Regions from separate parts of the Homo sapiens genome. Here all the other regions are reported to be linked to region 2. Evidence: microRNA targets listed by miRTarBase, many of them from high-throughput screens and not tested one by one. Region 2 holds a microRNA gene; each other region holds the end of a gene's coding sequence. Distances are between the middles of the regions.

What was found. Region 2 holds the annotated microRNA hsa-miR-3941 (UUACACACAACUGAGGAUCAUA, at 2,975-2,996, shown strand). A microRNA usually pairs through its seed, bases 2 to 8, with sites in the 3' UTR of a target mRNA and lowers its output. Matches are read on the target gene's strand: a 7mer-m8 pairs with bases 2 to 8, a 7mer-A1 pairs with bases 2 to 7 and ends in A, and an 8mer does both.
Region 1: miRTarBase lists BMP10 as a target of hsa-miR-3941. Seed matches in the 3' UTR shown: 7mer-m8 at 1,197-1,203.
Region 3: the mRNA of UNC5B is a reported target of hsa-miR-3941. Seed matches in the 3' UTR shown: 7mer-m8 at 2,696-2,702.

What each region holds. Positions count from the first base shown.
Region 1 is chr2:68,862,355-68,866,419 of GRCh38, forward strand. It overlaps BMP10 (bone morphogenetic protein 10), which reads right to left. Exons shown (of 2, transcript NM_014482.3): 2 at 1-4,065. The coding sequence ends at 3,277. Among named protein-coding and RNA genes, the nearest start is that of BMP10, 7.0 kb to the right of the region's middle.
Region 2 is chr10:122,414,050-122,418,117 of GRCh38, forward strand. MIR3941 (microRNA 3941) reads left to right here and starts at 2,916; the gene lies at 2,916-3,018. It overlaps PLEKHA1 (pleckstrin homology domain containing A1), which reads left to right. Exons shown (of 12, transcript NM_001001974.4): 7 at 1,810-1,953; 8 at 3,851-3,919.
Region 3 is chr10:71,298,694-71,302,758 of GRCh38, reverse strand. UNC5B (unc-5 netrin receptor B) reads right to left here. Exons shown (of 17, transcript NM_170744.5): 17 at 1-3,647. The coding sequence ends at 3,482. Among named protein-coding and RNA genes, the nearest start is that of SLC29A3, 19 kb to the left of the region's middle.

The DNA of each region.
Region 1 (4,065 bases), not on the chromosome of region 2:
ATATGTGAGCCATACTCTGAAGCCCAGAAGACTCTCTATCCAAAAGGGAATCACAGACATAAAAATAAAATATTTGGTATTCTACAATATTTTACAAAAATAAATATATCAATCAATAAATAGTGGGAAGCCTAGAAACTCTTACATGAATATTTTGGCTGTGGGCTGCCCAAGTCCCTCTGCTATAATTCTCCTCAAGAGTTGTTTAGCTATATCAACTTCGGTGATGATAATTCTGCAATAAAAGGGGGAAAAAAACTGGCATGGGACCCAGAAGAAGGTCTATGACCAGAGAAACATTAGTAAGATTCTACCTTTTTAAGGATCTGACAATATTCTGGCTTCCTGTCAATGCAGGAGTTGAAAGTGACACCGGTGTGCTGCCGGGGTTCCGGTGGGAGCTGGGAGAACTCCTCTACGGGCTGTGTCTTTTCACTTTCTGACAAAAAGCCAAAAAAATACAACTAGCAACATTTGAATAACAATATGTTGCTCTCTGCACTCCCTTTCCACAGGGAAGCAGAAAATCATAGAAATGCAGGTTTACATCTGGATGGGCAGAAAGAAACAACTGGGCTATGCAGCCTGATCGCCAACAGCCTATATTTTCATATCTCTTTAACAGAAGAGTGACTATAAGTGCTCGAGACAAGATTTCTCCAGAAGCCCGGAGCCAGCAGCGCACACAGTGGAAAGCAGGGCTGGCACATCCTTAACATTCTAGTATCAGGGTGCTAATGTCAGCGGTGTGCTAATGTCAGTGGGATACTAAATGTCAGCGGTGTGCCAGCACCAGTGCACAGCTCCCAAGAGCTGACTTAGGTTTTAGAAGTTTTGCAAGCCAGTTGACATCACCTTGGCAGCTCAAGATAGACCATGTAGGAGCGTTTGCAGCATTGAAATCCACAAATCAGGGCTTTTTCTCCCCCTGGATTGCTGGTTGTAAGGGTTTTACCAGCACACCACTGTCATATGTATTAGACATAAAGAAAATTTGCTTAATTTTTATCTAACCAGGACTATCCTGGTCAGCTGAGGTTTTACTGTGTATGTATTACAGTGTCCTTTAGAAAGGATAAGAAGTACCTTGGAGTATGTGAGTATACATTGTGTACCATGGAGTATGAAGGATGCACCACGTTCCACTGAGGGTATTAAGCGTGGTTATTCAAAGCCAGCTATACATCACACACACATACACACATCATGTTATATGGAGGCTGTTCCACAAATAGTGATTCTGAGTTGCATGGCTTTCTCAAAGCATCAATCACTGTATACCCACTGACGGTCAAAACACCACTCTTCCATGAGCAATGAATTCCCCAGGATTCACCCAGCAGACAACAGATCTAGCGAGCTGAGGTTCAAATTGGGCCTTCTTCAAAATAGTTTTCCTTGCCTCTATTGTCTAGTGCAGTTTGAGTTTATAACCTTAAGAGATTTGTAAAAGGGGACTGATTGTTTTCCAGGGTAAAAAAAAGAAAAAAGTGTCAGACTTCTTAAGGAAGCATTCCTTAAGATGAGTAGGGGTGAATGGGGGATGACGTACTGGAAACCACATTCCTGGTTCTAACAGGAACCATCCATGTTCCCTGCCTGGAGATGCTGGAACAGTTTGGAAACTGCTCTGCTCTGCTCTGGTTCCTCCTGCACAAAGCCCAGAATATGCTTGCCAGGTAGAGGGAAATGGTTAGGGGTTAAGACTGGAGGCTGCCACCTGCCAGGAAAACCCACCGGACCCTTCCTGTGCAGAACACTTCCTCACCACTTTCAGTCCTGGCCAGTTGCAAAATGGGAAGATGGTAAGATGAGAAGATGGGAAAGTTACTGGGTTTCTACCATGAAACAATCATGATTTCAAAATTCAGGCTTGGCTTTTGAGTCATTTGCTTGTGTGTCTATTCATAAATTCGTTTATTTAAATCCATTCATTTGGACTCTGGTTTTCTTTTTCTTATACTTACTTATTCTGGTTTTCTTTTCTCTTATATCTAAGTATTCTTCATGAACAAAACATTTGATAAAGGATATTATTAAAATAAAATCAAATTAAATATCACGGGAAGATTTAGAAATTAGAACACTAACTCCTTTCACCCTGAGAGCAAAGGCACTTAGGTGTCCCTTTCCAGTTCACAGCATGCATCATGAAGGCCAGGGAAGAGCAGGGACACAGGGATGGGAGGAAGGTGAGAGGCACTAGGGCCAAGAAGAAAGAGGGAAGGAAGAAGATGGAGCAGAGGAAAGCAGGGGTGCTGAGACAAGGGAACAGTGTTAACAGGTGAAGAAAGATATTAACATCCTTTCTTCCAACAGACAGACCCCTTCTGATTTTCCTCCTCTTAGTCTTTGATACTTCTATTTTGTCCAAAAGATTTAATTCTTTAAACAGAACCACTTTTGGTTTTACAGACACATCTGAGGATAGCCTCTGAGGATAACATCAATATCCTCTTCCCTTTCTCCCTTTCTCCCCTTCAAGTACCCTCCCAACCCCTCTACTCTCTGCAGCAGCAATGGCCAGTACTCATGGCCTTGCTTTCCTATTGTCTCAGGAACAGATTTCATGCTGGTTTCTTCTGTTTTCCTGCCTTGACCAGGAGTTGCCCTCTGGAGCACATTGGTCCTCCATGGGTTCATTTTTTCCTGTTGTACCTCTAAGACCTCTTAAGTCCATTTGGTTTCTGTATCAATTAACCCTTCCCTTCAAGCATCCTTTGCCAGGCCCCTCCTCTCTGAGCAACTACAGAAACTCAACTGACAAAAGCTACACTTACATTTCCAGAGTATTTAGGAAGGGTAATACTTCCTAGGATGATTAAAACCCTGATGTCAATTATCTTGACTTAAATCCTACTCAGAGAAGAGGTAACAGAGAACATACCATTGGCCTTTAATATGCATACATTTGAGTGAGTCATGCATGTAGATGAGTATAACCTGCCTGCATAGAACCAAAAGATTTTTGTAAGTTCATGTATGTACAAATATACATACACAAGTGTGTGTCTTTTGACACTGTATTTTGCCTAGGGGTTGTTTTCAAATCAACAGGGAGGTGGCATTGCCAGGAAATGGCAAGTCCAAAGAGAAAACAGATTGAAAGGGACTTAACTGGAGAGGAAAATATGCATTTCCTACAACAAACTGACCTGTCCATTTCCTGAAGGCAGCAAGCCTCTATTACTGTACACCCTTATTAAATAATCTCATTAAATAGGAACACCAAATATACACATTTACAGTTATTAAATAAGCCATAGGACTCTTCTTCTATCTACAGCCACATTCGGAGACGGCCATGCCTTCGTATTTAAACTTGTAGGTGACGACGCCTTTGTCTAAATAGAGGATGGAGATGGGCTCTAGCTTTGTGGGCACACAGCAGGCTTTGGAAGCTTTCTGGGAATTCTTGAGGTGGACCAAGGCCTGGATAATTGCATGCTTTGTGGGTGTGAGATGCTCTGCCAGGGGGTAGTTACAAACACCACGGCATTCATAGGCTTCGTATCCAGGCGGAGCGATGATCCAGGAGTCCCACCCAATCTCCTTGAAGTCGATGTAGAGCGGGGTCCTCTTACAGTAGTTTCCTTTGGCGTTCCTTCTGATTCGGGCAGTGGAGTCATAGATGATGTTTGATCTCATCTGCAACAAAGCCTCTTCCCCAGGTCCACTGGAAAAGCTATCCAGGCCCAAGTTGTCCAGCTCTGGAAGTTGCTCATGGGAAATCATTTCATTCAGTTCCTCCTTCCTCTCCTTGTCACTGCTTTGGTCATCAGAAAACACGATGAGCAAAGGGTTATGCTTATTCTGGGCACTGGTATCTATTTCTAGCCGTCCACTGCTGGCATCCTCAGCTTCATCGTGTTTGCTCTCAATGTGGACCTCCAGCTGGTGGGTGGATGAGCCTGACTTTTGCCAACGTCTGATGGCATCTGTGACATCAAAAGTCTCCCACTCACTGTTGGTTCCATATATCTCCCCAGACACCAAGACCAGCATGTTTCTTTCTCCCTCATTATCCCCTTTGCTCTCCAGCACTTCAAAAATGGTAATTTTCCG
Region 2 (4,068 bases):
TGCTGTCATAGAGCATACATTTTCCACCAAAGTTGGATAAAAAAATAAGCTAGGATTGTGTGTTTACTTTTTCCAAAAGTAATGATTTTAAACTGTTAACCTTCTGGTTACTATGTACCTAGATTAAGCTTCTTTCACTGGTATTATGACCTATGTTGACATAAGGGGTAAGACTATTTTCCTGTAGTTGTGTTAAGACACTGTATTAGTTTGTATCTGTGGCTGTTTTAATTTTGTCTAGAGTTAAGATTTTGTTGCATTGTAATTTTGGTATAGATATTTCAGTAGTTTCTAGGATTTTATGGAGGGTATAATTTTATTGCATCATTTATTTTGTAGTATAGTTTTAAAAATTATAAAATAATATATGTCTATCATAAAAGGCAAAAATTGGTAAATTGGACCTCATCAAAATAAAAAATACTTGCTCTATGAAAGACCTTCTTAAGAGGATGAAAAGAAAAGCTACAAACTGGGAGAAAATATTTGCAAACCACATGTCCAACAAAGGACTTTTATCTAGAACATAGAAAGAACTCAGAACCCAACAGTAAAAAGCCCAAGAAATCCAATTAGAAAATTCATGAACAGATATTTCATCAAAAGATAAAAGATAAACAGATGGTAAGTAAGCACATGAAAAGATGTTCACCATCATTAGCTAGCAGGGAAAAAATACAAATTAAGAGCACAATAAAAGATCACTGCACACCTCTCAGAATGGCTGAAATAAAAGTGACGACACAAATGCTGCCAAGGTTGAGGAGAAACATAATCTCTCAGGTGTTGCTGGTGGGAATGAAAATTAGCCACTCTGAAAAACAGTTTAGTGTTTATGTTTTGTTTTTTTTTTAATAATAAAAGTAAGCTTGTGATTACTGTACAACCCAGCATTTGCAGGACTAGGTGTTTATCGTAGAGAAAGGGAAAATTACATTCACATAAAAACTTGTGCATGAATGTTGATAGCAGCTTTTTTCCTAATAGCTAAAAGTGGGAAACAACTCAAATGTCCTTTAATGGGTGAACAGTTAAACAACTGGTCATCCATCCATACCATGGAAATATAGCAATAAAAAGGAATGAACTCTAGATACAAGGAACAGTCTGGACGAATCTCTAGAGAATTATGCTGAGTGAAAAAAGATAATCTCAAAAGATAACCTTCTGTATGCTTCCATTTACATTACATTTTCAAAATGTCAAAATTATAGTCTTGGAGAACAGATTAGTGGCTGCCAGGGGATTTAGGGGTAGGAACTCTAAAGTTCACAAAGGAGCCTTGGGGTGATGACCAATTCTGGGTCTTAAATGTGGTAGTAGTTACACAGATCTACACATGTGATAAAACTGCATAGAACTGTATAGACACACATAGATGAATGTATGTAAAACTGGTGGAATCCGAATAAAGTTTGTGGGTTGTGCCAATGTCCATTTCTTGTTTTTTGATAATGTTACGCCGTTTCCCTTTGAGGGGAAACTAGTGAAAGGGTACATAGGACCTGTTGTACTTTTTTTGGGCAGCTTCTGGTGAATCCTTATAATTATTTCAAAATAAAAAGTTAACTCCTTCCCCAAAAAAGAGCACTGGTGGCAGGACTTGTGCAAAACAAGAGGAATGGAAATTTGTGCTTTAATCAGTGACAGGAAAATTAAGAGTAAGTATCTCAGATTAATTAGAAAACTCTTCAAAAATCTGTTTCTGACTAATCTAAGGTGGATTTTAAGATTTTCTACTGGGATAATATGAAATAAAAGTATGCTAAACAAGCAAGAAAATAATTTATTTATTTTGCTTCATTTTAGAAAGAAGAAGTAAATGAATGTGGTGAAAGTATTGACAGAAATAATCTGAAACGGTCACAAAGCCATCTTCCTTACTTTACTCCTAAACCACCTCAAGATAGTGCGGTTATCAAAGCTGGATATTGTGTAAAACAAGGAGCAGTGGTGAGTAGCTTAACAAAATACATGAAATAATGAAAAAGGATTACGTTCTAGCAAACTCAAATTAACATGGAAATTGTTTGCTTTATTTTATGAAAGACCCAAAGTGAGAGACCGGCATGCTGAGGAGAGTCAGGAGATAAAATAGGGGATATTCTCTGTTTATAATTCAATGCTGTTATTTGCTTGGTTTGCAGGGGGCCAGGAAAGTTAATGCCCATTACCACTGACTTTCAGTTTAAATGAGCTTTCCTAACAGTTTAATGTTTTAGAAAGTGTTTCTATTCATCTTTACTCATACTCAGGAGTGGGTCAGGGAAAGAGAGCTGTTGTGGGGAGATGGCAGGCCAGCGGCAGGAGAAGGAGTGGTGCCTAGGAGGTCTCTTCCTTGTTTAGGCATTGGCCTGACCTCCGTGGTAAGCTCTCTGACCTTGGGCTACTTACTTAACCTCTCAGGCCCTCAGTTTCTGTCTTAAGGAATATCATATAAAACCTACCATCTAGGGTTTTGTTTTGTTTTGTTTTTGTTTTTTAAGAGATGTAAATAAGAAAGGTGTGTTTCCCTTTGCACAGCACCTGGTACTTAGTAAAAGCTGTTATGGGTTAGCCCAGGTATTCCCATATAATCAGTTCCATGATGAATTTTTTGCAAGAGCAAGTAAATTTACCAATATTTCTAAGGTTGCAACATACCTTAGTATCTAAGCCATTCTTTCTATGTGAACTAAATCTTTAGAATTTCATGAGAAAATTAACTTTAAAGTTTGAAAATGTTTTTTAAGTCTGTGAGTAAAGAAATACTTAAAATTATTTTGGTGGTTCTGTTTGACTTCTCATCACTTTTTGGCAACTCTTAATTTTTTTAGGGCAGCCAGGGGAATGTCCTTTCACCTGTTTGACCTGCTTTAGGCTGAGGAAAATGATGGTGAGGGCAGGGGTTTCTTACTGTACAATGTCTGCAGGTAGAGTCAGAATTCTCATCAGGCTGTGATGCTCAGTTGTGTGTAGATTGAAAGCCCTAATTTTACACACAACTGAGGATCATAGCCTGATGGTTCCTTTTTGTTTTACTCTTAAGTCCAAAATACCAGTCAGAGATATTTAAGTGCTTCTGCAAAAACTGTTATTTTATTGACAAAAAATATTTGTACAAAATAGGTTTACTTTATTAAATATTTAGTGCTTTACTACTATGTATAAAGTACTTGTGGAAGAATTCATATGTTTTTACAGATGGAGAAACTTGATGTGGTTTAATAACATTTCCTGTGTTTGCTCTTTACATGGGGTTGGCGGGGGCGAGGAGTAGGAGGAAGGGGAAGTGCTTTTAAAAAAAAAAAAAGTTTCAACATTAAAAATATGAAATAGGCCAGGCATGGTGGCTCACGCCTGTAATCCCAGCATTTTGGGAGGCCAAGGTGGGCGGATCACCTGAGGTCAGGAGTTTGAGACCAGCCTGACTAACATGGTGAAACCCTGTCTCTACTAAAAATACAAAAATTAGCTGGGCATAGTGATGGGAGCCTGTAATCCCAGCTACTCGAGAGGCTGATGCAGGAGAATTGCTTGAACCCAGAAGGCAGAGGCAGTGAGCCGAGATCGCGCCATTGCACTCCAGCCTGGGTGACAGAGCAAGACTCTGTCTCAAAAAAAAAAAAAAAAAACACATAAAATCATACAATAAAAGATGAAAGCCAGGCACCAGAAATTGAATTAGGAATTCAAAGCCTGGGTAGCTAGAGAGGGATGAGGTTTAATTTATCGCATCTCTAAGGGAAGTAATGAGATTTTTCACTGCTTGGCATGTCTGATTGTGGGTTCATATCAGGGTAATTAAGTGGTGACTAACATTTGACATTCTTAGAAACACAAGTCTTATGTCTGTGTTCATCTCTGGTAGATGAAAAACTGGAAGAGAAGATATTTTCAATTGGATGAAAACACAATAGGCTACTTCAAATCTGAACTGGTATGTTGTTACGTCATAAATGTTGCTATAAGAATGTTTGAAAAGTGTTGCAATGTAGTGATTATATATAATTTCTTGTACTGTTCTGTAGTTTCAGAATAAGTCTAGTTTTTAGAGGTAAATATAGTTTATTTGGTTGTGATGCTTTT
Region 3 (4,065 bases), 51 Mb from region 2:
GGATTGGGGGCCATCCCTGGGGCCCTGCACCCCCCTCTCCCGGGCATATAACCATGTCCACAGACCTGGCAGGGGTCCAGCCCTTTGCCCCACCAAGAGCTCCCTGCACCAAAGCTCCTGGTCACCTCCCCTAAGGGACCCGGCTCAGCTGCCTAGGAGCTGGGGAATAGGGACCAGAGTGCCCTGGAGGGTCCAGGAGATGAGAAGGATCCCCTGCACCCTCAGGAGAACCCCTACCCCTGAGCTCTGGAGCCGGGGGCACTGTGAGAGAAGGCAGAGGGAGAGGCACGTAGAAGATACATTGACTGACCCTGTGGGCTCAGGGAGGGCAGAAGACAGGCACACCAAACCCTAGACGTCCAAACCTGGGACGCAGAGGAGCACACACACACGCTCGCTCAGGTGGGGACACGTGCACATGCTCTCCGAGGGGCATCCTGATGTGCCCACAGAGAAAAGCATAGGCACGCACACGCGCACGCACACACGCACCCCAGAGAGGAGAGAGAGAGAAATACCTGCGTAAGGGCCCTGCAACCCCCAAGGGTACCTGAGCTGCTTCCCACCAGGTACATGCCCTCGGGGGCTACCTCTTGGGTCTGAATTGGAGGAGAAACCACCCATCCCACCCCGGAGGCAGGCAGCCTCCACAGACGGATGGAGTCGGCAAAGCCTTTCTGGGCATTTCTCATAGAGCTGATGGTTTGAACCCTCCCAGGAGGCTCCAGCCAATGGGTCTGTGCTCTAGGACATGGTGCACATTTCTGGAAGTCAGACTGGAAATGGCACCTGGGTGGCTGGCTGCACTTCATCCGTCAAGCTCCTGTCCTGGGGGCAGAGCAAGCAGCTTCTGAGGGTGGGGTGGGGAGGACAGAAAAGAACAGGGAGGAGGGGCACGGCAGATCACAAGGTCCCCTACAGAAGCCTAGAACAGTGTGTCTGAACCCAAAGAGCCTCAGACCGCAGACTTCTAGGTATGAAAAGGACACTGAAGCCCAGAGAAGGCAGTGATATGCCTGAAGTCGCACAGCAGTTTAATGGCAGATTTGCAAGTTGATTCTTGGTCTTTGGACTGCCAGGCTACATGTGGGCACATTAGAGCCTGCGAGGGGAATGGCACCCCCTGTCACGGCACGTGTGGTCTAGCCTGGTCAGACTGCCCTCAAAGCCACGTGACCGAGGCCCACACGTGTTCATGGGCTAACAGTGACCAGTGAGGCCGAGCCCATGGGATGGGCACTTTGGCAGGGAAGGCTCACTGCCTTTGTCTGAGGCAGCATCCACATGGAGGCACCAGGGTCGAAAGCCTTAGTCTCAGCCTCCGGGCCCAGCCAGAGCCTAGCCCCTGATGCAGGCCTGGCCCCTCAGCAGCCCTGGTAGAAGGAATCTTCTCTCAAATCTCCAGGCAAGTCCTCCTTTGCCCACAGCCAGGCCGCACCCCAGCGGGGCTGGTGGGTGGTAAGAAGCCCCACGAGCTACTGAGTCCATGGCAGGGAAGCCAGGCTGGGGACGCTGGCTGGAACTGCGGCCCTAAAACCTGCCCTCCTCTCAGGATATCAGACTTTCAAAGGCCAGGATGTGCTGAGACGGGTCCCAGTGGCTGCTCGGAGACCTGCTGGGGCATGCCCTAGGGTCACTGCCTGGAGGTGTTGGGGAAGCGGGCACCTGCCTTGCCTGGAGTGCCAAGAGGGAGAGGCCTTTGAAGAGGCCTCTGTGCTGGCTGCAAGATCCTTGTCCCAGCCACTGCCAGGCAGCTGCACAGGGCAGGGACTCATCCCGTGCCATGCAGGGCCCCTCGAACAGGTTGGGTGGGGGTGGTATGTGCTGTCCCCTCAACCCTGGCAACCCTGCCCACTGGGAAAGGTTATTTCAGATCTCTCAGACCGTAGCGGGGTGGGTGAGAGGAGGGTTATAGGAGGTGCCTGTGGAGATCAGAGCTGGGAAACCAGCTTCTCAGCCTCCTTCTCCACTCCTGGGCATATGAAGCACAGCCAGGCCACCCGCCTCCAAGGCTCCCACGTTGCAGAGCTGACTGACACCGGGAAGCTCAGGCTTCTGCAGCTAGAGAGGACTTCTCAGCCATCACTCTGCTTTACAGAAGGAGAAACCAAGGTTGGGGAAGGGCAGATTCTGGATTCCTGGCCATCAAGAGAGCACCACGCTGCTCTAGAGGCTGCTGGGCTGAGGAGGGGATGAGGGTGTCAGGGCTGGCCCCACCCTAGGGTAAAGCTATCCAGCCGCCAGGAGAGAGATGCCCGTGGAGGACTCCCCTCCCCTACTTCATCTCTCTGTTTGAGTCCCACTTCTGGGCCACATCCCTTTCTAGGAGCCACCAGACCAAAACCAGACTGGAACATTCTCCCTGGCTCACAACTGGCCTGAGCAGTCCTCCTCTTTCATCCCAACTTTCTTAATCCAGATTCCCAGGAGTCCAGATGTATCTCCCTGGGGCTGTGGGAGGGAGGGCCCACCCACTCCAGCCCTCAGCACTCCTTGGCTTTATGGATTCAGCATCTGCTTAAGATTTTAGAGGAAAATCTAACCAGCTAAATCTAGACAGTGAAAACCCTGTCTGACCTACTCCCTGCACAACTGGGGAAACTGAGGCCTTGTCAGAATTTAGTCCAAGATGGATTCGTTAGCAGCAAAGTACTCTCTGTTCAGTCTCTCTCTCCTCAATGCACACGCGTACATGTACACACACACACACACACACACACACACACACAGGCACATTCACTCCTGGCCAGAAGTGTGAGCGTGCCCATTCTCATCCACACTCAAGAAAAGAGTTTTCTATTTTTTTTGTGTTGTTTTTCATTTTCTTTTTTTTTCTTAAAAAGGACTTATCCAAATAATCTGGATAATAAATCGTTTGCGTTTCCTAAGAAACTGGGTTTTTCTTTTCCCTTGTGGTTTTGGTGTTTTTCTTCTTCTTTGAGCCTTACTAGCGGTCTGAAGCTTTCTTTCTTTCCTTTGCCTTTTTGCTTTTGGACAGGAGAAAGCAGTTTGTCTGAATTGTACTTGACTCTTCAAAGAGGAAAAGGGCGTGGAAGCAGAAGGGGGCTTAGGGAGAAAGGAGAAATCAATAACGGAGGAAGAAAACGAGAACGGAACTAAAACCCATGGAACCCAGAAGTTGCCGGGCTGAGGGTGGGGGGGTGGAGGGAGGGCCTCCTGCCTGCCCGCCCCCAACCAACTGCCTCCAGAGGCTTCAGCCCCATCTTGGTTCCTGCACAGAGATCTCAGGCCAAGAGAGAGAGAGCGGGGGTGGAGAAGGAACTCTGGGCCCTCTAACAACAGAGTACATGGATTTTCTAAGGCTGGTCATGGTCTGGGGGTTGGGGAAGAGGAGGAGGAGAGGCAACTCTGGCTGTGAACTGGGAGGAAGCAGAGGCCAAACATCCCCATCAGGAGGCTGCCCCAGGCCTCCCTGCACCTGCCTCCTGCCAGTCCCTGCCAGCCCGCTGTCCCAGGAGGCTCAGCAGTCCCCGTCGGTGGCCACAGCCACCAGCATCTCACTCTTGCCCATCTCCTCCAAGGCACTCGCCAGGCTGTTGAGGTCCCCATCGTCCTGCTGCAGAGCTTCCCAGAGGTCCAGGATCACACCCGTGGGGCTCGCTTTGGTGGCAAAGTAATTCAGGTACCTGGCAGAGGGAAGGAGGGCACTGAGGTTCCCAAGCACTTAGCCCCTCCCCGGAGCCTGGAGGTGAAGGGGCACAAGGGGAAGTGGGAAGGCTGTGAGCTTTGGTGTCCCACTGTCCTGGGTCTGAATTGCAGCTACTGTGCTGCAGTCTGTGTGGCTCTCGGCAATTCAGAACCTATGGCTCAGAATCTCAGTCTCCTTGTCTCTAAAATGGGAACAATGCCAGTTACCGCTCAGCAAGATCCAAGATCATATAAAGTAAGGGTCTAGCGTTGTCTCTAGCATGTAACCATCTTGTTCATCATCATCATTATTATCATTGAAAGACACTGGCCCCAAGAGAGAATGACCACGTCTAGCATGTGGTCATTCCTCCCACCCGTGTTCCCTCCTGCTCCCATGAACTCCCCTGATAGGAG